7 linked regions of the Homo sapiens genome follow. The protein of the gene in region 2 purifies or fractionates together with the protein of the main gene of each other region. This does not show direct contact. Each region holds a gene or a part of one and is shown on either strand. Other genes may lie near its edges.

Region 1 (3,500 bases), on a different chromosome or scaffold from region 2:
GTGCAGTGGGTGTCACAGCAGTGGCCGGGCCAGTGAGTAGGGGGAGCTTTGACATGGGGTGGCTGACCATACTCGCCTCTGAGTCCCTGGGTGCTTGGGCCCCATCCTCAATGCCTTTAGCTGCCTCGGCTCCAGGCTCTGCAGGGCAACGAAGCCAGTGAGAGGGACGGAGAGGACCACTGGGATCCCCTCATCTGGCACTTCAGGCACCCCAGTTCTGGCATCTGCCTGAGGCCCCCAGTCCCTACCTTCCTCCAAACTTCTCCTCCCACCAACTCTCCCAGGTCAGTTTGTATTTCCAGGCCTTTGCTCCTACTGGTCTTATTGCAGTCAGGGCTGCCTCTCCACACAATGCCTGTTTGCCTGGCAAACTTCTCTAACCCTGCCCTGTCCAATGTGGTGGCCATTAGCTACAAGTGGCCATTTAAATTTAAATGAATTAAAATATAATACATAAAAACCTCAGTTCCTCAGTCACACTAACCCCATTTTCAGTGCCTGGGAGCCAGTGTGGCTGGTGGTTATTGCCTTGGGCAGCATGGACCTAGAAGTTCTGCTGGACAGTGCTGGCCCAAGTCCTCCAAAGCCAGCATAGACATCACCTCTCAAGTGAAGCATTCAGGGAGTCCAAATTAATTCCTTCATTCTTAGTGCTATGTCTGAATCATGACTACATTCTAATCATCCATCCATCCACCCATCCATCCATCCATCCATCCATCCATCCATCCACCATTCATTATTCGTCTATGTATTTAATGAGCACCTCTTCAGATTGCCTCTCATCTTAAGATGCCATTAAACTCATGACCTGCTGTACACGGGTGCTGGGGGCCGGTGTCCTAGGCGGTATCTTTACCTGGCGTTCCCTCTGCCTCCACTGGGGAGGCAAAGGCATCAATGAAGTCATTGGAGTTCCACTTGGTCATCTCCTTGGGGAAGACCTCCTCACTGTCCGAGAAGCCTTCTGAGGGGACAGGGGGCTGTGTCATGGGGTGGGAGGAGCTGCTCGGGGACATCCCCACTCCCAAAAAGGGCCTCAGTGCTGACCGTGGGCATCAAAGAACTCTTCCTCGGAGCTGTTCTCAGAGTCTCGGGCAATGTTCTGCATGCGCCACTCAGACAAGCTCTGGGGAGACACAGCCCCTGCCGGGCCAGCTCAGCCTCAGCCTCAGCCCAGGAGCCCAGCCTGGGGAGGGCCGTTCCTCCCATCCCTGTGCCCCAGCCTCACCTCCATGTTGGGATGAGTAGGAGGAACGGGAGGATGAGGACCACTGCTTCCCAAAGCTGGCATCGGGGGAGGCATCTGGGCCTGGGGGGGCCTCAGGCCCATCGGGGGTGCCAGTGTTGCTGGCCGCAGACCGGGCCTCGGTGCTCGGTTTCCCGGGGGGCTGGGCCTCGGACCCCTCACTGCCTGTGTTGCACTTGGCCATGCGCTGGGCCAGCATGCGAGCAGTCTCCTCTTCCAGTGCCCGGATGTCAGCCATGCTCAGCTCTGTCCACTCATCCTGCCAGCACCAGGCCTGGCGGTGGGCCCGCAGCATCACCCGACGCAGACCTGCAGGTGCCCAGGCGTCAGAACTGCCCCCTCCCCCTGCTTCCCTGCCACCGCAGCTACATGCCCAGCCTTGAGGTTGGATAATGGCTCCCCTGGGGACACCACCCACCCAGAGCCACAAAGTAGGGCAGGGCCAGTGCAGTCCAGGAATGGGAGTGGAAAGTGGGGCATTTGTCTTCCTGCCTGACTCCCCCCCGCCCACTGCCTTTCCTGTCTCTCTGCACACCCTAACTCTCAGCACTGTCCCCACCCCATCACTCCAGAAGCAGGGACCAATGCTTGTTCTTGCTTTTGGCTGGCTTCCTGCTGACTTCTGAGGAATTAACAGTTAATTAAGGGTTTAACAGTTAATGAAATTGTTGATGGTTAATGAAGGTGTTAACAGTTAATGGAAGTGTTGGCACTCAATGAAGGTTGTAGCGAAAGATGATACCCATTCTGGGATATTTTTATCTTAAGCAGAAGAAAAAGTTAGAAACTCTTAAATGTCTAGGAAATAAAGTAATGATGGTTGAATGATAATTATAAACTTCTGCGAGGAGATATATTGGAATCTTAGTAGTGGCTATATTTTTCTTATTTGTGCTTTTTGGCATTTTTCCAAATGCAAGACAAGGCGTCCTCATTATTCTCTAAGCTGAATTTCCTCACCTGTAAAATGGGAATAATCATCGTCATTACCTGGTGGGGTGTTGTGGGTGTTAAGGGAGATCTTGCACAAAAAGTAATTAGCCATGGGTCTGTGTGTCGCAATCACTGTCAGTATTAGCTCTTCATATCTGACTCAACCTCTTCCTCATTTACTGAAGAGAAATTTAAAGTGCAGAGATGGCCAGTGCCTTGCTGGAGGTACCATGGGGTGGGGGTCAGTAGTGGGACAGAAGCCAGGCCGCTGGTCTCTCCAACTAGGGACCATCCCTCTGTGTGCAGATGACCTGGGCACTGAGGCAGGGCTGAATTGTAGGCGTGGTGGGGTCAGGTTGAGGGGAGGTGTGGGACTGGGGCTCCTGAACACCAGGGCCAAAGGCTGGAACACTAGAAACTGGGAGTGGAGGTGGGGAATCCCAGAGAGAATGACATCAGAGTCACAGCCTCAGCCTGCACTCCTTAGCATGCTGCCAGTTAGAGCCGGTGACCTTCCTGAGTGTCTCTAAGTCTCATCTAACTCATAGGATGATGGAGAATCTTAGAATCTTAATGGAAGCAGCAGCATTTCTGAATGTCAGAGCCAGTATGGACCTTGTAGATCATGTTACCAGCTTCCTGCTCTGTGGATGCCTGGCTAGGCTGTGCGGCCGCTTCTGCCCTAGTGCTCCCCACCTCAAATGGAAACGATGGCTTTCTGCTTCTGTGTCCCCAGTGGATGGGAGCATCCCTGGCCCTAAACATGGGGTCTGGGGCATGCTGGGTAAGTGGGACCTCCCGCAGCTGGGTGCTCACCTACATCATGGATGAACTGCTCGATCTTGGCTTGCATGCCCCAGTAGCGGAACTCAACCTTGCACAGCTTATAGGCACACATAAGGGGCCCCGTCTGTGCCGCCGTCCGTGCCCAGTCATCAGACAGTGGCCCTCGGCCCGTCTTGACCGAGTGATAAAGCCGGGGGTCCTCTTCTGCTTTGTACTCGCCTGGGGCCACTGCATCCCGCACGATGTCGATGGTGTCTGAGGGAGTTCGGCAAGCATTGAGCAGCGCCAGCCCCTTTGAGCCCCCGCTCCTGGCACCCTCTTGGGACTGGATGACAGTTCCCGTCCTTTTGCAGACAGGACATGAGGCCTGGAGAGGGCTGGGACTTCTCAGAGGCTGCCCACTGAGGCAGCCAGGAGCCTGAGAGGGGCGCCAGGGTCCCCCCATAGCTCCAGGCCTCACCCAGGATGCGCTGTCTCCTCTCGGCCCCGCTCAGGTTGAAGACGTTTGGCTGCTGCCCCCCATCAGGCAGGT
Region 2 (3,500 bases):
TCCCCAGCTGAAGCGGTTCTCCTGCCTCAGCCTCCCCAGTACCTGGATTACAGGCATGCACCACCACGCCCGGCTAACTTTTGTATTTTTAGTAGAGATGGGGTTTCACTATGTTGGTCACGCTGGTCTCGAACTCCTGACCTCAGGTGATCCACCCACCTCAGACTCCCAAAGTGCTGGGATTACAGGTGTGAGCCACTGTGCCCAGCCTTTTCCTTTATTTTTCTATCCCATTTCTCTTTCAAGCCTCTTTCTCTAGTCTCACTCCTCCTCTCATCTTCCTAACATAATAAATAAGAAAGCCAAGGGCACACTCCCACTTATCTTTTAAGGGAAGAAACACAGCCAGCATGACGACAAAAAAAAAAAAAGCCATAGCCTTTGCAATCAGACAGATCTTGATTCAAATCCCAGCTCCAACCCTCAGTCAGGTTCATAACTTGGGTTAATAACTTCAGGATCATAACTGTACCCACTTCCTAGGCTTGCATTAAGAATTAAATAAATGAACGCTTAGAAAAATGGCAAGCGCACAGTGTAAGCTCGCCAAGTCACATATCTCAAATGCCATCTTCCCTGTGAGATCGAACACCCAAAGCAGAATTAACACAGCTTTTTCTAAGCTCTCAATAAGGACAGGCCATAAATATCTTGTCCCCATTTTCCCTCGTCTCCCAATACCTAGAGGCTGGAAACTTTAAGGGCTAGGCCTTCCTCCCAGGTCCCCAGTGCAACCTAGTGCCTGGCCCACAGGAAGCTTTCAGTATGTGGTAACTGAACCAAATCTCAATCAGAGTCACGCTCAATTCCCCCAGAAGGAGTCATCTGTCTATAAAGAAAACCTCAAAGGATCTGCAAAGGGCAGAAACCCAAAACAGCTCTAATTTGGACAATCATCTCTTATGTACAGACAATCCCCGATTGGTTTGACTTGCGATTTTTCAATTTTACAATGGTGTGAAGCCATCATAATTTTGACATATTTTGAATTTTGATCTCTTCCCAGGCTAGTAATATGCAGTACATGAGATATTCAATACTTTATCATACAATAGGCTTTGTGCTAGATGACTTTGTGCAACTGGAGGCTAACTTAAGGGTTCTGAGTATGTTTAAGGTAGACAAGGCTATGATGTTGGGTAGGTTAAGCTGTATCTAATATGTTTTCAACTTATAATATTTTCAACTGACAATGGGTTTCTGAGGATGTAACTCCGCTGTAAGGTGAGGAACATCTGTAAGAGATCATTATATCCATGCATGTCTCTAAATCCTTTCTGATCCAATTCGTATGCCTGGCGTATCATCGTCTTGGAAAATGACGACTTCCCAAAGTGTATCTCATACAGAATAAAACAGCACTTTTTAATCACCTTAAGTTTACCTCTTTGAACAATTGAGACAAGTCTCTAGTTTATTAACTCACCCTTATTTGTTTCTCTGTCCAAGGCAATGGCTGGTCAGGAGCATGCAGAACTAAAGGTTTTGTAGCAACACTTACAAAGTTTAAGGTGGCACTGCTAAAGATCATTTATTTTAGACATTCCTATCTTAATAAGTGCCCTTTACAACTTCTTGAATTCCCACTCTACAAACCTGCAAGCCTATGAAATCTCTACCACACACAAGCTTTGCCCTGCCTTCCAAAGACTGGATAGCAGAAGGACAAATTACCCACAAGTTAATGTGTTTTGTTTTTTTTTTTTTTTGAGACAGAGTTTTGCTCTTGTTGCCCAGGCTGGAGTGCGATGGCGGGATCTCGGCTCACCGCAACCTCCGTCTTCCAGGTTCAAGCGATTCTCCTGCCTCAGCCTCCCAAGTAGCTGGGATTACAGGCATGCGCTACCATGCCCGGCTAATTTTGTATTTTTAGTAGAGATGGGGTTTCTCCATGTTGGTCAGGCTGGTCTCGAACTCCTGACCTCAGTTGATCTGCCTGCCTCAGCCTCCCAACGTGCTGGGATTACAGGCATGAGCCACCATGCCCGGCCGAATGCTTTCTAAATATATAGAATCAAGAAACCATCAGAATCTGATATAAAAGTGAATATTCACAAGAGAAATCAAACATTCTTTGGAGTCATCTGTCTGAACTTTTTCAAAAGTAGGGCAAGAAATCCCTCCTAAAAAATTCAGAGAATAACTCTTAATGAATTGATGTTCTTAAGAAATTGTCCTGACAGCTATTAATACTTCATTAATGGTTTTAAATTCTCTGCCTCCCTCTCTCAAGAACAAACCCCTTTATGAGTTAACTCTAATGAGCTGATACTGGTATGAGGGAAAGTACAAGGCTTTGCCTGTGCCACCATTTACTAGTGCAGCCTCATCCAGCAGAAAGTTACCTAGCCACTGACTAAGTCATCTCATACGATTGTTACACAGATTAAACAGTAACATAAATATGGCAAAGCACCTCTTACCACAGTTCCTAAACTGTGTGGCCTATCTTCTGGAATTAAAGCATTTATCCTCTAGAAATGTTTGTTCCTTCTTTACCTTTCTTTACCCTTATATTGCAAAATGTATGTCAGCCACTGCTTTTAACTCCAGACCCGACCCAACGGGGTGTTGGGGGGCACATTTCACCACTCACACATATGACCACTCCCAGATCCTTAGGTTCCATTTTCAATTCCCCTCCATTCTCTGAGCACCCTTCAGCCTTTCAAGACAACTCAAGGAACTTAGAGCTCTAAACCACATCACAAGGAAGTAATTTAAATCTAGGTAAATGGTCTAGGGGTACATCCCATTGTCTTAAAGTACAAGCTAAAAGATGAAAAACACTGCAGTCTCAATCTACCCCTAAAACATTTATTGCCCTAGTCTCCACTTCCCAGATGGGCAAAGGCTGAAGGAGCCTACTGAAATGCCAACAATGTAGTAATTGAAACACATTATAGGTATCGGCCAATGTGCCCTACACAACACGAGGTGGGCATGCACACACACACCCCCCAAAAGCGTGAAGACATCACTTGACACAGGTGAAAATACTAACATGCTAACCAAAGGTCAATATTAGCCCTTCTGAAAGGATGAAGGAAAACTCCAAGAAAGCATTTCTGTAGCTTTACAGTTCTATGCAATAAAAAAATGTTATTAAAAGAAAGTATTCCAAGGTTTTCTCACGGGACTATGCCATTTTCTCAACTGCTTCCCAACCCCCAAACCCCCATGCAAGGGGGGTTTGTCTTTGTCTACAAAGACAGTGTTTGTAGACATCAACAGCTTCTGTTAAAAGGATGCATTTAACAGTTTGAAAAATATTCTAGAGATAGTATTTTACCACATTCAGTTATTTTGTTTGTTTTTTAAATAATCCTCAAGTGACTGTCAAGTTTAGTAACTTTGTTTCCATACCAAAGCTCTTTAAACAACTCTTCCTTGTGTAAAGCCAGCTGCCCACATCTGTCAGGTAAGAACTTCAAAGAACGCACATACCCACTGAGCAAGGCCAAAGCAATCCTGGATATGCTATGCTGATAACAGCCTGA
Region 3 (3,500 bases), on a different chromosome or scaffold from region 2:
TGTCCTCTAGCAAAATCATAAAGTGGTTACAGTAGACCACTTCAGTCAGTTTTACCTTTGCAAATTTTATACAATCTCTCAGACAGTTTACCTCCTATTTGTTAGCCCATTGAATCTGTATCATTTTAACTTCTCAGCTAAAAGACTTTCCACCTTTGTCTTTTTATCAGCTTTTTCCACTTGAAACTATTCCATAAGCTTCTTGATAATAGTCAATTTCTACTCATTTGGTAAAACTTTTTTGAGTATTTACTATATCATAGTAAGTAAGCAAGTTTCCAGGAAAAATAAGATCTAGTTCTTACCCCCAAAAAGAAGAGCAAACATAATATAATATTCAAGGCATAATGAAATAGTTGCTTTAAAATGTCTAAGCTTACTGTGGAAGCTAAGTGTAAGAAAAAAGTTGTTACTAAAGAGAAAATGGGGGACTTCAAAAATATTAAAGAATGAATAGAATTTTGAGACCTAGAGAAGAAGGTTATTTTAAGAAAATAACATACACAAGTATTTGAAAATATGAACATTTAGAACTTACTTAAAAGGTTTAGTAAGATACTGTCTAGAAAATTAGGTTCTGGATTTAAACTTTAAAAGTTTTCTATTAGACATCCAGAATTTTGTACTACGCTGTATTAGTGGGGAGCCAATGCAGTTTTTTAAAGTGGAAAATAATATAATGCAACCTTTGTTAAAAGAGCCTAAAGATTTTAACTAGCATAATACAGGATAAGTTAACTTACTTTACTACAGAGAAATGTGTATAGCTACTATACATCTTCCGTTTTTGCTGGGCATTTAATTAGAACTAACGCTTTTGACGTGACAGTCAGCATGGCAATGAATAGTCAGATAATGGATTCCTTTTACAACAGTGCTTGTTCAAGTTGCTGCTTCTGTCTGGAATTCTCTTTCTTCACTTCTACCAGTGGTGAGATTTGCCCATACTTTAGGCATCCTCTCAGGTATCATCTCTGTAACAAAACCACCAATGTATCCTATTCATCTATCCTTCATCCTTCTTAGAGTCTGTGCTCTTCCTTATGTTCTTATATCATCTTATACTTAACTTTTATTGTGGTTTATTTATAGTATTTATATGGTATAGTTTGTATACTATATATATTATAGTTTATAATATTTAAAATGCATTACTATTAATCCTTATGTATCTGTCTCTCATGTTTGATTTTGAACTCCTTGAAGGCAAATAACTTGTCAGTTTATTTCAGTATTACTAGCATAATTTTCAATAAATCTTGAGTTATTTGTTAAATTAACATTAAACATCACTGCAGTATTACACAAATGAGCTTCTTACTAATTTGTGCTATTGTGATCTTTGCAATTTATTTTAAAAGCCCATGGCCATTAACCAAAAGCAGTCAAATGCTGACCTGGCTCTAGTAAATACCAATTTTCAGTGTTACCTGTGTATTTTTATCATGATTTCCAATAAAAATTTAAGTAACAAGCAGACTTTATAGTAAAACTAAAATAGTTGGGATATTAAATGATGTTGAAATCAGGAAATCATTCCATGAGCCATTTAGCAATGCAAGTACTATATCAACTGTACTAACATAACGAGAAGCTTTTACTTGCTTGTGCTTTGCAAAAATAGCCATATGACAGAGTTAGAAGACAGCTTGCTACTCAAAGTGTGGTCCCTGTCCAGCATTATTAGCATCTCCTGGGAGCTTGTTAGGAGGAAGAATCCCAGGTCCCACCTAGACCTACTTAGTCAGAATCAGCATTTTAACAAGATTTCCCAGCTGATTTATATGCACATTAAGGTGTGAGAAGCACTTTTTCCCTAATAACATTTTAATATGATTTCCAAATGTATATCTTCACTGGAGAAAATTTTGAAACTACAGGAAAAAACAAAAAGGTAAAAAAAAGTATACATAATTCTGCCAAAAGGTAATGACTGTTAATTTTTGTATATATACTCTATTTTGTGTATAGACACACAAATTTCTACCAGCTCCAATTTTTTTTTTTTAAACAGAGTCTTACCGTGTCACCCAGGCTGGAGTGCAGTGGTGGGATTTCGACTCGCTGCAGCCTCTGCCTCCCAGGCTCAAGCGATCCTCCCATCTCAGTTTCCCAAGTAGCTGGGACTATAGGCATGTGCCACCATACCCGGCTAATTTTTTGTATTTTTGGTAGAGGTGGAGTTTCACCATGTTGCCCAGGTCGATCTTGAACTCCTGAACTCAAGTGATCTGCCTGCCTTGGCCTCCCAAAGTGCTGGGAATACAGGCCTGAGCCACTGCACCCAGCCCAGCTCCAGAATTTGGATCTTTCAAAACATAATGTTTAGTTAACATTTTTCTTTATAAAGAGTTGTTCTACAATACTATTTTGTATTAAATCATAAGGATATACTATAATTTATTTAACCAATCATTGGCCATCTAGGCTGTTTTTAATGTTTTGCTATTAAAAAATGCCATGATAAACATCTTTATAACTAAATATTTGTACATATTTAGGATTATTTTTATATTTTATAGGATTAATTTGAAGAAGTTATGACCATTTTAAGGCTTTTGCATTAAATTAATTGAATCCCAGATAAACATGCATATCTTTTTGGAGTTAATTATTATAATAATTATTTTTTCATAGATTATAGCACTTGAGAATGTGTGAAAATAATTATATAGCTACTATCCTTAATGATATTTTTAAAAACAAATTTAAGGCCAGGTGTGGTGGCTCACGCCTGTAATCCCAGCACTTTGGGAGGCTGAGGTGGGCAGATCCCTTGCAGTCAGGAGTTCAACAACAGCCTGGCCAACATGGTGAAACCCTGTCTCTACTAAAAATGCAAAAATTAGCCAGGCTCCATCTACAGGTGTGGTGGCGCACACCTGTAATCCCAGCTACTTGGGAGGCTGAGGCAGGAGAATCACTAGACCCCAGGAAGCAGAGGCTGCAGTGAGGTGAGATTGCACCACTGCAGTCCAGCCTGGGTGACAGAGTGAGACTCTATCTCAAAATAAATTAAAATAAAATAAAATAAAGAAAACACATTTAACATTGTAAAATTTATTCTCAAAACAGTATATTGATATTTTTAAAAATTAAAAATATAATGGCCCATTATACTTCCTTCTGTTACAACTACCAGGGTCATGGTAAGAACATTATATGTTTGTCCCCTCCAAATCTCATGTTGGAATGTGATCCCCAGTGTTGGAGGTGGGGCCTAATGGGAGGCGTTTGGGTCATGGGGGAGGATCTCTCATGAATGGCTTGGTGTCCTCCCAATGGGTAATGAGCTGGTTCTTGCTTTATTAGTTCATGCAATAACTGGTTGTTTTTTTAAAACAAACATGGCACTTCCCCCTCTCTCTTGCTCCCTCTCTTTGCCTGTGACATGCCTGCTCCCTCTTTGCCTTCTGCCATCATTGAAAGCTTCCTGAGGCCCTCATCAGAAGCAGATGTTGGCAGTATGCTTCTTCTACAGTCTGCAGAACCATGAGCCA
Region 4 (3,500 bases), on a different chromosome or scaffold from region 2:
GTTAGACAGTAAGTCTAAAATACCAATAATTAGAAATTATTTTCTGTTTAAGACCACCACTATACTTCACATCCTAAAACTATTTAGGTTTTTAATATTTTTTAAAATCAAGGGACAGGTGCAGTGGTGCATACCTGTAATCTCAGCACTTTGGGAGGTCGAGGTTGGGTGGATCAGTTGAGCCCAGGAGTTTGAGACTAGCCTGGGCAACATGGTGAAACCCCATCTCTACAAAAAAAAAAAAAAAAAAAAATATATATATATATATATATATATATATATATATAAATTAGCTGGGCGTGGTGGTGCACATATGTGGTCCCAGCTACTTGGGAGGCTGAGGTGGGAGGATCACCTGAGCCTGGGGAGGTCGAGGCTGCAGTGAGCTGAGATTGCACCATTGCACTCTAGCCTGGGTGACAGAGTGAGACCCTGTCTCAAAAAAAAAAACAAAAAACAAAAAACAAACAACACAAATTTTATCTGTCCTATCTTATGAAGTAGATTATCACAAGAAGAGAATACAGTTTCCAATTTACAGGAGTTTATACAGATTCAACTTGAGCCCCCAAATTGCCATGCCACTATGGACTATCCTACCCCCATGAGTTACCAACTGACAGTCAGATGTCACTAAATATAAATTGTTTATTTATTTATTTTTGAGACGGAGTCTTGCTCTGTTGCCCAGGCTGGAGTGCAGTGGCATGACCACAGCTCACTGTAACCTCCGCCTCCCGGGTTCAAGCGATTCTCCTGCCTCAGCCTCCCAAGTAGCTGGGTGTGTGCTACCATGCTCGGCTAATTTTTGTATTTTTAGTAGAGATGGGGTTTGACCACGTTGGCCAGGCTGGTCTCGAACTCCTGACCTCAGGTGATCCACCCGCCTCAGCCTCCCAAACTGCTGAGATTACAGGCGTGAGTCATGGTGCCCGGCCGGATGTCACTAAATTTAGAACTTGAATTTACTAACTAATATGTAGAGGGTTGTTTTTTCTCACTTCAATATGATGTTACATGAGTGCGATAAAACAGCATTTGTAAATATACTTCTATCACTCCTTAAAGCCTTCAGTAATCAAATTTGTGATCAAATGTCAACTCATCAACAAACAGCCATTTTTAAGGAAACTTCCCTAAAGTAATAAATATTGCACAGGTATTTTTTAAATTAAAACTTGTATCAATTTTCAATTCAGAGAGAAATGTTTCTGACACCTAAGTAAAGTGAGAAGCTGAGTTTTCAACAAAGGCAGCTACACACCTTTTTGTTTTTCAGACCTAACAATTATTCAGGACAGTTTGGTCTCAGTTCCCATGACTTAAGATTTTATCATTATTCCTATCTGAATATGGTAGATTGCAGTTAATACTAACTAAATGCCTAAGAATAAAATAATACAAATAATCACTGTTCTTAGACAAGCTATTTTGCCATTGTTTTTCACTTTCACTTGGAAAAAACTCGTAAGCAAAACTTAGGATTCTAAAATAGTTCAAGACCTCTGATAGGCAAGGTATGAAGAAACAGTCAAGTAAACCATCTTAAAAGCCCAGCTAATAGGGTAAGTGCCAGAAACCTATGGCAGGAATAGCCAGCAATACTTTCCCTTCTTCCGCAGACATGGTAGCATGGTATAAGTGAGGAATCAAGAGACCTGGGCTCTAGTTCCAAGTCTGCCCTTATTAGCAATGTGTCACTTCCCCTCTCAGACCCTAAATTTCACTTTCAGTTAAAAGGGAAGGCTGGGCTAAAATGATCTCCAGTCCCTTCCTACTCTAAAAATGTTATGATTCTATCCTTCTTCCAAGGCCTCAAAAATATTTTGGCTGCCACTAAAAAAAAGAGTGCTGAAAATGTTACATTTATTTTTACAACATGTTCTCAGTGCCAGCCTTTAGTATGTGTAAGTATAAACCACATGAGTTAGCAGGGGCATTCATCTCATATATAATTTACCCAGTAAATACTTAATTTCAAATTTATGGGTCTTGAACTATGTACCAAATACCATTAAGTTAAACGAAAAGATTAAAAAAAATCACGAAAGATTTACCAAGAACAAAAGCTTATCAATACAAGCACACTATTAAACCTCAATATAAAGACATTTAGAGTTGGAAGGGTTCTCAAGAGTGTAATCCCCTCAATTTAAAGATGAGGAAATAAAATGACTCACAGTGCAGGGCTCTTTTCTAGTGTACCACACGATTCCTCTTCTCTTTCCTGCTCTATCAAAAGACAGCCCAGTAGCAGAAAGAACGCCAGACAGTCAAACTGATCCGGGTTCTAGACCTAGCTCCACCATTAATTTGCTGTGGCAGCTTTTACAAGTTGCTTTCTCTCTCTAGGTTTCAGTTTTCACAACATTTTACACGAAGGAGTTTAACTAGATGTCCCTTCTAGCTGCAACAGGCTATGATCTTGCAAAATTCCTATCTGACAAAACAAAAATACACGTTGCTGAAAGAAAGTGGAATTTCTTGCCAAGAGAACAAAAAAGTTTAGGCTGCTGGTTTTAATGGAGATGTATCAGTTCAATTCAGCAACTTGGTCCTAAAGCATTTTACTCCAGAATTTACCAGGGGAGGATCTCTGTCCACCTCTCTGTCACTGCTCTCATCGCCCTCCACAGGAAAAAAAAAAAAAAATACTGGACTAGGAGTCTGAAGAGCTGGTTTCAAATCCCAGTTCTGCCACTTAAAAGCTCTCTCCTAGGACAAATTCACTTAACCGTCTCTGAGTCTAAGGTTCCTAGGCCAGGTGCGGTGGCTCACGCCTGTAATCCCAGCACTGTGGGAGGCCGAGGCGGGCGGACCATGAGGTTAGGAGTTCAAGACCAGCCTGACGAACATGGTGAAACCCCGTCTCTCCTAAAAATTAGCTGGGCGTGGTGGCGCACACCTGTAGTCCCAGCTACTCAGGAGGCTGAGGCAGGAGACTCTCTTGAACCCGGGAGGCGAAGGTTGCAGTGAGCAGAGATCGTGCCACTGCACTCCAGCCTGGGCGACAGAGCGAGACTCCATCTCAAAAAAAAAAAAAAATGTTCCTCATATGTAAAAATGAAGATAAAAATGAGAAAACCTGGGCCTGGCGAGATGGCTCATGCCTGACAGTAATCCCAGCGCCCTGGGAGACTGAGGTGGGAGGATCACTTGAAGCCAGGAGTTTGAGACCAGCCTGGGCAACATAGCAAGACCCCATCTCTAAAAAAACCTTTAGCTGAGCAGGGTGGTATGCACCTGTGGGAAGATAACTTGAGCTTAGGAGTTTGATGCTGCAGTGAGCCATGATCTCACCACCTCTCCAGCCTGGGCAACAGAGTGAGACCCTATCTTGGAAAAAAAAAAAAAGAAAAGAAAAAAGAAAATAAAGAAAACCTGACCTAAAATATCAATAAAAAAGCATTATAAATACGGCATATATTGCAAAGCTGGGCAAGTGAAGATCATCTGCCACTGTAGAAAAGTAGGCTGTACTGGAATTAAAAGTCTCTAAA
Region 5 (3,500 bases), on a different chromosome or scaffold from region 2:
AGGCTTGAATATACAGCCTAAGCACCAATTATGATAAATGCATATTGGTAAAATGTGACTTCTGGCTTTAAAAGACATTATTGACCTCCCTGGGGCTAAAGATTGCACCCATGTGAGTAATACACTGCTAAAGAATAATTCATTTTTTAAGATCTATAGAGGTTCTCCACTAGGCACAATTCATTGCTGAAGTTGGATCATGCAACAGTTTTACAAGAGAAGTAGGAAAACATACGTATACTGAATATAGTGCATATCACCATGAAGACTTTCAGCATGTAAGATTAAGACAGGACAGTGCTTTAAAACACTTGCATGGATTTGGGTTTGCCTATTCAAATGAAAGGGAATTCATTGAGATTTATATGGAAAAATTCCATGTTGGGGTTAATGGCCCACCACTCTGAACTGAGTCCAGTAAGAGCTTGAGGAATTTGGCTTTGTTAGTACAGACCTTCTCCTTGCACTCCTCTTCTCAGTATTCAACAAGCTGTCTTTGTTTAAAAATATGCAAAATGCACTGATTTTTGGAGTGGTTCATGTGACTTTTACTGCTCATTTTGTTAAAAATTCTGTCTTAAGTTAGAAGGTATTTTTTGCTTTCTTTTCAACATCTGAAGAACAATGCATCACACTTGGGAAAAAAACATTTCTTCACCTTATAATTGGTAATGTGCTACAATTACCTTTTAATTAAGATCTGAGCCTTTTACAAGTAGATTTTCTTCACATACTTAAAATAGATCGAAACTCTGTCTCAAAAAAAAAAAAAAAGATAATGAAGACTAAATGTTGATTCTGTATTAACAAATGGAGGCAGAGGAGAGTAAATGACTCTAGGGCAGACTTGCCAAACCCTAGCTTGGAGGGAGTCCCATATTGCCGTTCATGCAGAAAGCAGACACTATCATTAGTCTGAGGACTAACCCTAAAGGGGCCACACCCATTAAAGCTGAGGAGTGTCCAAATACCAGGGCAACAAAACGTCATGGCAAATAGTCTTCTCCAGATATGAAAACCCAAGACTGTGGTCTTCACATCTTTAATCCCCCAAATTCTTAAGTTGGTGTTCTGAGTCAGGACTCTATTTCAAAATAGGGTCTCACATCCAAGGAAATATGTCCTTCTGTAGAGCAGTTCTTACTTGACTATGCTTCAGGGAAAAGAGCAGCAGCATCTATAAACATACATGTATGTGTGTGAGAGTGTGTGTAATTTAAAAGGGGATCCAGAGCCCCTTCTTGATTATAAATTGGAAGTAACAATAGGCCAAACTGTCTCCTTAAATAAAACCACTGATACTAAAAAATTAAAAGATTAAACAGATCACAAAAAAATCAGACAGGTGGTGGAGAAGACCCCAAAGAGGAGTTACAAATTTAACACATTTGGGAAAGTAAAGATGACTTTAAAACAAACTAAAGATAAATCACAAACCCAAACTCAGCAGCCTAAGGGAACCTTCATAGGGGGAAACTAGGAGGCTCCAGCACTGTCAGGTCACACTCCTTTCTAGACTATGCAACCCTCTAGGGTTTCTTCCAGGGCTGTTGCATTGGCAGCAAAGCGGGACAGGCAGCAGTAGGCATGTGCTTTTTTTAAGTTTTTTTTTTTCTCTGCAAAGGGGCAATTATTCCTGGATAAGGCAAGATAATTGTGGTCACAAGAGAAGCAGCCAAATGCAGATCTGTTGAGCTAACAGGGGGAGTGTCTCAGTCAGTCTTTCCCAGCTTTGCAATCAGCTCATCACAGATTTTTGTCAGTTCTTCAATTTCTTGGTTCTGAAAGACAAATGACATAATTATGCAGGCCACTTTGTATTCTGAAATAAAGGCAAATAGAGTTAACTAGTCCCAAGTCTGGATCTACCCTACCCTAGACATCCTAATTCAGTGATTTTTAACTTTTCTACATCAGAGATGCTTTAAAGAAAAAAAGGCTACACACCTCAAAAAATGTACTCATAAAATCATGCTTAAATTGAGTAAAGGGTGAGGACAGTCACCAGCCCTCTGAAACTTGTCCATGAATCTCTTAGTTCCCCAATTTTCTTGTTATCAGAGGAATTATCTGGGGTACTTGTCAAAAACATAAGTATCTGGGTCTCACTCAATCCATTAGCATATCTAGGGATGCTGGAGTCTGAATCTCCCAGGGAGCACCGTTCTAGGGGCTAACAGACCCTGTGATAAAAACTCCTGCTCTTGATGAATGGATGGCACAGGTATGAGTACATAATTGGAAATGCAGTAAAGAAAATACACCGGAGACATATAAAAACGGAAAGCTAAAAATTGCTTAGTGAGAAACAGGGATTGTTGCTAGTCCTGGTTTTCATTTATCTATAGCAGTTTCTCAAAGCAGCCCTGCTGATGTTTTAGGATGGGTAAATGTGTTGTCAGAGGCTGTCCTGTGCATTGTAGGATGTTTAACAGCATCCCTGGCTTCCTGCACTAGATACCAGCAGCATCTCCCAGTGGTGACAACCAAACAAATATATCTCCAGACATTACCTAACACCTAACATCCCCTGGAGGGCAAAACTGCCCCCAACTGCAAACCACTGATCTAAAGCAATGAAGGGGGAAGATGGCTTCATATTAATATATTGCATAAAAAACAAAGAAAGAAAGAAAGGCAGTCTCATGACCCCAACTAGGAAGCTGTTCTGAACTTCAGTTAAAATGCAACTTCCTCTCTGCACCCTGCCTGTGGATGATTTCCACATGATGTGCTTGAAAATTTAATGGTTTGACTTGTTTGTTTCCACCTGGATCAGTTCAGAAAGGAGCTGGACTGAAATGTCTGAGTAGAAAGCCAAGGCCTCTTTCACCCAGATCTGTCATTAAGTGAGTCACTGCTGAGGAGGAAAACCAAACGTCTCTGTGGCCACCCAGATCAGGTCCCTTTCTGTACCTTCTGCTGCAGGGCCCTTTCCAGGGACTCCACCTTCATCTGCTCTTTGCGGAGTCCAGCATGGAGAGCTGCACTCTCAGCCTTTGCTTTTGTTCGAACCTGAGCAATCTCTTCATTGGCTCTGTTTATGGTGTTTGGGTGTAATAAAGAGACAAAAAGCACATGATTAGCCACTAGTCAAAGCCAGTCAGGATACTAACCACTGACATCTGTGAGGCACAGGCCTCAAAGAATTGACTGCATGAGAGAAAAAAAACAAAAATCGGTGACCTAAATAATTCCATTTTAATTTATAAAAATTCAATTTACAGACAACTTCAAAATTTGTATCTCACTAGCAAATGGTTTCTATAACAGTCTTAGATTTTTTTTTTTTTTTTAGACCAGTACAAAAGCAGACTGCATAATTTTGGAGACGATCACAGCTAGAGTTGGGATACTAACCACTGACATCTGTGAGACACGGGCCTACAGGGAATGAGTTTATTAATGAGATGTGAAAGGCATTCTTTTTTTTTTTTTTTTTTTTTTTTTTTGAGATGGAGTCTCGCTCTGTCACCCAGGCTGGAGTACAGTGGCGCAGT
Region 6 (3,500 bases), on a different chromosome or scaffold from region 2:
AAAACATAAAATTAGCCAGGCATGGTAGCACTCCCAGCTACTCGGGAGGCTGAAGCATGAGAACTGCTTGAATCTGGAAGGCGGAGGTTGCAGTGAGCCAAGATTGTGCCACTGCCCTCTGCCCTAGGCGACAGGGCAAGACTCTGTCTCCAAAAAAAAAAAAAAACAGAGACAGGGCCTCCACATACCACCCAGGCTGGTCTCAAACTCCTGGGCTCAAGTGATCCACCTGCCCCAAAGTACTGGGATTACAGGTACAAGCCACTATACATGGCCAATATTTTGTTAGAAGTGAGAAAAGTAGGGAAGGGAAAATAAGGTGAAATGAGAGCAGGCAGAGTGGGACAGGGCACAGAAGCTAAACGCTGTGCAGATGACTCCAGGTTTCCCAGGACAGACACAAAATTAGGCTGCCTGAGTGTCTCTCAGGGTCCTCTTCCATATTAGTCTCAAGACTTCTTGTTCCAATTCTAGGCCGGGCGCAGTGGCTCACACCTGTAATCCCAGCAATTTGGGAGGCTGAGGCGGGCAAATCAGGAGGTCAAGAGATGGAGACCATCCTGGCCAATATGGTGAAACCCTGTCTCTACTAAAAACACAAAAAATTAGCTGGGCGTGGTGGCACGCACCTGTAGTCCCAGCTACTCAGGAGGCTGAGGCAGGAGAATTGCTTGAACCCGGGAGGCGGAGGTTGCAGTGAGCCAAGATGGCACCACTGCACTCCAGCCTGGCGACAGAGCAAGACTCCGTCTAAAAAAAAACCAAAAAAAAAAAAACAAAACACTTATTTTTCCAATTCTAAAGATAATACTTTCCTTTTGCAACAATAATACACAATTAAAATTTATTTTCACAGGAGACTTTTGCTTCTTATTTTTTTAACAGAGACAGCGACTCTCTATGTTGCCCAGGCTGGTCTTGAATTCCTGGCCTCAAACAATCCTCCTGCCTCCCAAATTGCTGGGATTACAGGTATGAGCCACCACACTCAGCTAATTTATGTTCTTTCTCTTTTTAAAAAAAAATTATTTATAGAGACAGGGTCTCTCTATGCTGCTCAGGCTGGTCTCAAACTCCTGGACTCAATAATTCTCCCGACTTGGCTTCCCAAAGTGCTGGGATTACAGGTGTGAGCCACCACACCCGGTCTACTTTTGCTTTTTTTTTTTTTTTTTTTTTTTTTTGAGACAGAGTCTTACTCCATAGCCCAGGCTGGAGTGCAGTGGTGTGATCTCGGCTCACTGCAACCTCTGCCTCCCGGGTTCAAGCGATCCTTCTGCTTCAGCCTCCTAAATAGCTGGGATTACAGGCATGCACCCCCATGCTTGGCTAATTTTTGTATTTTTAGTAGAGAGGGGGTTTCACCATGTTGGCCAGGCTGGTCTGGAACTGCTGTCCTCAGGTGACCCGCCCACCTCAGCCTCTCAAAGTGCTGAAATCACAGGCTACTTTTGCTTCGTTTTTTTTTTTTTTTTGAGATAGAGTCTCGCTCTGTCGCCCAGGTTGGAGTGCAGTGGCACAATCTCGGCTCACTGCAAGCTCCACCTCCATAGATGCCTGCCACCACACCCGACTAATTTTTGTATTTTTAGTAGAGACAGGGTTTCACCGTGTTGGCCAGGCTGGTCTCAAACTCCTGACCTCGGGATCCGCCTGCTTTAGCCTCCCAAAGTGCTGGGATTATAAGCATGAGCCACCGCGCCTGGCCTTACTTTTGCTTCTTAAAACAAGTTTCAGCTGGGCACGGCGGCTCACACCCATAACCCCAGCACTTTGGGGGGCCAAGGCGGGAAGATCTCTTGAGGCCAGGAGTTTGAGACCAGCCTGGCCAACACAGACCAGCCTGGCCAACACAGACCAGCCTGGCCAACATGGTGAAACCCCATCCCTACCAAAAATACAGAAATTAGCTGGGTGTGGTGGCTCATGCCTGTAATTCCAGCTACTCGGGAGGCTGAGGCAGGAGAATCGCTTAAACCCAGGGGGTGGAGGTTGCAGTGAGCCGAGACTGTGCCATTGCACTCCAGCCTGGGTGACAGAGTGAGACTGTGTTTCAAAAAAAACAAGTCTCCCAAGATGAGAACTCCTGGCCTTGCAAAGAGATCAAGACAACACTTCAATGCAGCAAACACCGGGTCTGTATTACAAGATTAACAGGAGCCGTAAGAGTTTTTACAACCACAGCAGCAGCCACAAAATAGAGCAGTGGCTACCAGAGCTGACACAGAAGGACACAGGGCATTTAGAGAGTGATACAACGATAGAACAGTTCTTTTTTTTTTTTAAGACTAGTTAAGTGTAGTAGTGAGAAGCTGGGAAAAAGAGTAGAAGAAGGGGCCAGGCACGGTGGCTCATGCCTGGCTCCCAGCACTTTGGGAGGCCAAGGCGGGTGGATCACGAGGTCAGGAGTTCGAGACCAGCCTGGCTAACATGGTGAAACCCCAACTCTACTCAAAATACAAAAATTAGCCGGGCGTGGTTTCATGCACCTGTAATCCCAGCTACTCGGGAGGCTCAGGCAGGAGAATTGCTTGAAACCGGAAGGCAGAGGCTACAGTGAGCAGAGACCAGACCACCGCACTCCAGCCTGGGAAACACAAGCGAAACTCTGTCTCAAAAAAAAAAAAGCCGGGCAGGTTGGCTCATGCCTGTAATCCCAGCACTTTGGGAGGCCGAGGCAGGCGGATCACGAGTTCAGGAGATCAAGGCCATCCTGGCTAATACAGTGAAACCCTGTCTCTACTAAAAATACAAAAAATTAGCCGGGCTTGGTGGCACGCACCTGTTGTCCCAGCTACTCCGGAGGCTGAGGCAGAAGAATCGCTTGAACCCGGGATGCAGAGGTTGCAGTGAGCCAAGATCATGCCACAGCACTCCAGCCCGGGTGACAGAGAGTGAGACTCCGTCTCAAAAAAAAAAAAGAGTAGAAAGATGGCCGGGGCCGGGTGCGGTGGCTCACACCTGTAATCCCAGGATTTTGGGAGGCTGAGGTGGGCGGATCACTTGAGCTCAGGAGTTCGAGAGCAGCCTGGCCAACGTGGCGAAATCCCGTCTCTACTAAAAATACAAAAATTAGCCAGGCATGGTGGCACGTGCCTGTAGTCCCAGCTTTTCGAGAGGCTGAAGCAGGAGAATCTCTTGAACCTAAGAGGCCGAGGCTGCAATGAACCGAGATTGTGCCACTGCCCTGCAGACTGGGTGACAGAGCAAGACTCCATCTCAAAAAAAAAAAAAAAAAAAAGAGAGAACAGAAGGAGTGTGATCTGTGACTGTGAGCAATCGACTGAGTGAACTCACTACCTTCCAACCAGCTGAATGATTCCTAACTATGGTGGTGGTCGGATGACTCTATGTGTCAAAGACACAGAATAGTATGCTAAAAAGTACGAATCTTACTGCATGCAAATTAACCCTCAAATTTTTTTTTTTTTTGAGACGGAGTCTCGCTCTGTCACCCAGGCTGGAGTGCAGTGGCGCAATCTCGGCTCACTGCAAGCTCC
Region 7 (3,500 bases), on a different chromosome or scaffold from region 2:
TCTATTCAATTACAGTAGGTCAGAAGTGACAGCTTAGATAAAAAGTTAGCATGGCAGTACCTGAGTCATATTCCTAGTTATTTATTATCTTCAAGGCTCAGTACAAACAAGGAAAAGCCATTATTTTTCTTGCAGGCAAAAGAGGCAGTTAAAAGTTTGTTTATTTAACTTAGGTTGGGAGTTGCTCTTGCCTTAAAAAAAAAAAAAAAAAAAGGGAAAACTCCATGAAAGTAAAGATTAACTGATAATGCTTCTTTATCTTTGATGCACCTATCCCTTTTGGTTTTACTGTTTTCCTCTCCTCCCCAAGATTTTCCTATTTGTGTAAAATTGTACTAAGAGCACCTGGGAAGGCTGGGCATGGTGGCTCACGCCTGTAATCCCAGCACTTCGGGAGGCCGAGGTGGGCGGACCACCTGAACCCAGCAGTTCGAGACCAGCGTGGCCAACATAGTGAAACCCTGTCTCTACTAAAAATACAAAAATTAGCTGGGTGTGGTGGCGCGCACCTGTAATCCCACCTACTCAGGAAGATGAGGCAGGAGAATCACTTGAACCCAGGAGGCAGAGGCTGCAGTGAGCCGAGATCCTGCCACTGCACTCCAGCCTGGGCAACAGAGTGAGACTCCATCTCAAAAACAAACAAACAAAAAAGAAAACCTGGAGGATAAAAATTGTACCCAATACCTAGGACACTTTCTGCACAGAATAATATATAACCACTTAAGTAATAGCCATATGATAATTATGTCATTAAAATTTAAATTCTTGCATAGCTCTACACAAAAAATTACCATTTATATCTTCCAATAGGATCCCAAAATCCAGGCCTTGAAAGTTTACAGGGTCCTTCAGTTGCCTGCTTATAGAAGCTATAAAATTTAAGCATCATTTCATTTGTTGGCTGGAATGAACCTGTTGGAAACACACATTAAATACAAATCACCTGGGGAATACAACTGATAATCAGGTTATAAATTAGCTTAGCTATACTAATAGTGATTTTATATTGCATTAATACTTTAGATAATGATTTATTTCTAGCTTATAGAAACAAAAGTTATGGTTCTGTTAGTTGCTTGCTTCTTTGATTTCAAAACACTCTGAGATTTTAAACTTTAATAGCAATGCCTAAGATGGTTCAATAAATAAAAGAATACATGAATAGACATGCTGTAGATATAACCAAAATAACCTGCAAATGTCTCTTTAAAAACATACTAAAATATAGAATAACTATTATTAAGCAATCGTAATAAGGTACTTTTATTCAAAGCTTATGACAAATCAAAACTGACTAGTGTAAGTGAAAAAGTTATATGTATACTCTGCCAAATTTCAAATTCTCAGTAGATAAGGAATTTGGGGCTAAAGCCAAAGAGTATACACTATGGTAGAAAAAGAATTAATCTAAGATAAAATAGATTTCTCACTTCCTACCTCTGTAATTTTGGAGACATCAATTTGAGGATAATTCTTCATATATGTTTCTAGCATATCTATAGTTTTTCTCATGTTTAAAATTTTTAAATTGGCCAGTTGTGGTGGCTCATGTCTGTAATCCCAGCACTTTGTGAGGCTGAGGTGGGTGGATCACCTGACCCCAGGAGTTCAAGGCCAGCCTGGGCAACATAGCAAAACCCTGTCTCTACAAATAAAAACAAAAATTAGCTGGGTGTGATGGCACACCCTGTAGTCCCAGCTACTCAGGAGCCTAAGCAGAGAGGATCTCCTGAGCCTGGGGAGGTCAAGGATGCAGTGAGCTGTGATCACACCACTGCACTACAGCCTCGGTGACAGAGAAAGACCCTGTCTCAAAAAAAAAAAAAAAAAAATCAAATTGTATAAGCAAGTGCTATAAGTTGCAGTATTCTCAATAACTGAAAAATTGGAATGTTAATGTTTTATAATAGCTGTTTAAATAATTATGATATATAAATATAACAGGACAATTTATAACTGTAGCCCTAAAAAGTTATATTGTAGAAAAATATAAATAATGGTATAAGTTCCATGATCTACTATAAATTTAGAAAAATAAGTTTAAAAACAACATATGTAATATGATACCTTTTGGCAAAATATTTATATACATAAAAAGTACAGTAGAAAGATAAACATAAAATGTTTAAAGACTATCTCTGAATAGTAAGTATACAAATTATTTTCCTTTTCACTTATGTGTTTTTAAAAAAGTTTTAAACATCAGTGTATATTACCTTTATAACAAAATTTTAAAAATAACAATTGTAACAAGATATTTTTTAAAATTTGTAAATTGCATAAGCTAGCAGTTTATAAGAGCTGTGGGCCGGGCACAGTGGCTCACACCTGTAATCCTAGCACTTTGGGAGGCCGAGGCAGGCGGATCACCGGAGGTCAGGAGTTTAAGACCAGCCTGGCCAACATGATGAAACCCCGTCTCTACTAAAATACAAAAATTAGCCGGGCATGACGGTGGGTGCATGTAATCCCAGCTACTCAGGAGGCTGAGACAGAATTGCTTGAACCTGGAAGACGGTGGTTGCAGTGAGCCAAGATCACACCACTGCACTACAGCCTGGGCAGCTGAGCAAGACTTGGTCTCAAAAAAAAAAAAAAAAAAAAAGCTGTGCTGTGGAAATTACCACAGAGATAAACTGAGAACTAGTGTTTCAGGTTTGGCCGAGAGTGCATAATTAATTCTCAAATCACTATAATAATTATCTGTATAATATATGCACATTTAGGAGTACCTAATAGATAGTGTTCTAATGATACAATCCTTTATAAAGCAGAGGGAAAAAAATGGAGAAACCACAGTTTAAAATGGTCACTTATTTAAATAACACAAATCTAAATTTAAAACATCAAAAGTCTAATCTCAAAATATCTTCAGTAAGTCAACCAAATATGTTTATTGGCTTAGGTGAATGATATTAAAAATACAAAAACCGAGAACATTTATTGAGTGTAGTCTGTGTGTAAGACACTCAAGTAAGATTTCTGTCCTCAAGGTGCTCACACATGATGTACTTCATATGTATTTGAAATATTAGCTAAGAATTTTAATTTTAAAAGGTTAAGGTCATACCAAACATAGATGTCATAGGATTCATTACTATTTCAGGCCTTAAATAAGGATTGAGAAACAAGGAACAAAAAACTCCAAGATCTTGCTCTTTGCATAATGATTCAGAGCAAATCAAATGGTTTAAAAGTAGTATTACAAAAATATTTATAATCCATTATAACAAACTTCTGCTTCAATTAATATCAACTTAGTTTCAGGGGATAACAGTATACTGGATGTTGTCCAACACAAGTACCATTTGATAGGATATCTTTTTTTTTTTTTTTTGAGTTGGAGTCTGGCTCTTGTCACCCAGGCTGGAGTACAATGGCGCAATCTCAGCTGACTGCAACCTCCGCCTCCCGAGTTCAAGCGATTTTCCTGCCTCAACCTCCCGAGTAGCTGGGATTACAGGAACTCGCCACTACACTCAGCTAATTTTTGTATT

What was found.
Region 1: the proteins of VAPB (region 2) and PITPNM1 purify together in Homo sapiens (affinity purification with mass spectrometry; 7 studies listed by BioGRID and IntAct, with this or other methods). This does not show direct contact.
Region 3: the proteins of VAPB (region 2) and PRKACB purify together in Homo sapiens (affinity purification with mass spectrometry; 4 studies listed by BioGRID and IntAct, with this or other methods). This does not show direct contact.
Region 4: the proteins of VAPB (region 2) and WDR44 purify together in Homo sapiens (affinity purification with mass spectrometry; 6 studies listed by BioGRID and IntAct, with this or other methods). This does not show direct contact.
Region 5: the proteins of VAPB (region 2) and TACC1 purify together in Homo sapiens (affinity purification with mass spectrometry; 5 studies listed by BioGRID and IntAct, with this or other methods). This does not show direct contact.
Region 6: the proteins of VAPB (region 2) and MIGA2 purify together in Homo sapiens (affinity purification with mass spectrometry; 5 studies listed by BioGRID and IntAct, with this or other methods). This does not show direct contact.
Region 7: the proteins of VAPB (region 2) and ACBD5 purify together in Homo sapiens (affinity purification with mass spectrometry; 6 studies listed by BioGRID and IntAct, with this or other methods). This does not show direct contact.

What each region holds. Positions count from the first base shown.
Region 1 is NC_000011.10:67,498,864-67,502,363, forward strand, and holds part of PITPNM1 (membrane-associated phosphatidylinositol transfer protein 1), read right to left. Parts: coding exon 3,429-3,500; intron 3,224-3,428; coding exon 2,999-3,223; intron 2,362-2,998; exon of another isoform or gene 2,295-2,361; coding exon of another isoform or gene 2,240-2,294; intron 1,559-2,239; coding exon 1,232-1,558; intron 1,147-1,231; coding exon 1,051-1,146; intron 968-1,050; coding exon 860-967; intron 139-859; coding exon 77-138; intron 1-76. UniProt on the Homo sapiens protein: Catalyzes the transfer of phosphatidylinositol (PI) between membranes. Binds PI, phosphatidylcholine (PC) and phosphatidic acid (PA) with the binding affinity order of PI > PA > PC. Regulates RHOA activity, and plays a role in cytoskeleton remodeling.
Region 2 is NC_000020.11:58,395,729-58,399,228, reverse strand, and holds part of VAPB (vesicle-associated membrane protein-associated protein B/C), read right to left. Parts: intron 1-3,500. UniProt on the Homo sapiens protein: Endoplasmic reticulum (ER)-anchored protein that mediates the formation of contact sites between the ER and endosomes via interaction with FFAT motif-containing proteins such as STARD3 or WDR44.
Region 3 is NC_000001.11:84,147,271-84,150,770, forward strand, and holds part of PRKACB (cAMP-dependent protein kinase catalytic subunit beta), read left to right. Parts: intron 1-3,500. UniProt on the Homo sapiens protein: Mediates cAMP-dependent signaling triggered by receptor binding to GPCRs.
Region 4 is NC_000023.11:118,349,106-118,352,605, reverse strand, and holds part of WDR44 (WD repeat-containing protein 44), read right to left. Parts: intron 1-3,500. UniProt on the Homo sapiens protein: Downstream effector for Rab11 which regulates Rab11 intracellular membrane trafficking functions such as endocytic recycling, intracellular ciliogenesis and protein export.
Region 5 is NC_000008.11:38,846,236-38,849,735, reverse strand, and holds part of TACC1 (transforming acidic coiled-coil-containing protein 1), read right to left. Parts: intron 3,038-3,500; coding exon 2,917-3,037; intron 1,782-2,916; coding exon 1,713-1,781; 3' UTR 1-1,712. UniProt on the Homo sapiens protein: Involved in transcription regulation induced by nuclear receptors, including in T3 thyroid hormone and all-trans retinoic acid pathways. Might promote the nuclear localization of the receptors.
Region 6 is NC_000009.12:129,043,126-129,046,625, reverse strand, and holds part of MIGA2 (mitoguardin 2), read right to left. Parts: intron 1-3,500. UniProt on the Homo sapiens protein: Regulator of mitochondrial fusion: acts by forming homo- and heterodimers at the mitochondrial outer membrane and facilitating the formation of PLD6/MitoPLD dimers. May act by regulating phospholipid metabolism via PLD6/MitoPLD.
Region 7 is NC_000010.11:27,234,298-27,237,797, forward strand, and holds part of ACBD5 (acyl-CoA-binding domain-containing protein 5), read right to left. Parts: intron 916-3,500; coding exon 795-915; intron 1-794. UniProt on the Homo sapiens protein: Acyl-CoA binding protein which acts as the peroxisome receptor for pexophagy but is dispensable for aggrephagy and nonselective autophagy. Binds medium- and long-chain acyl-CoA esters.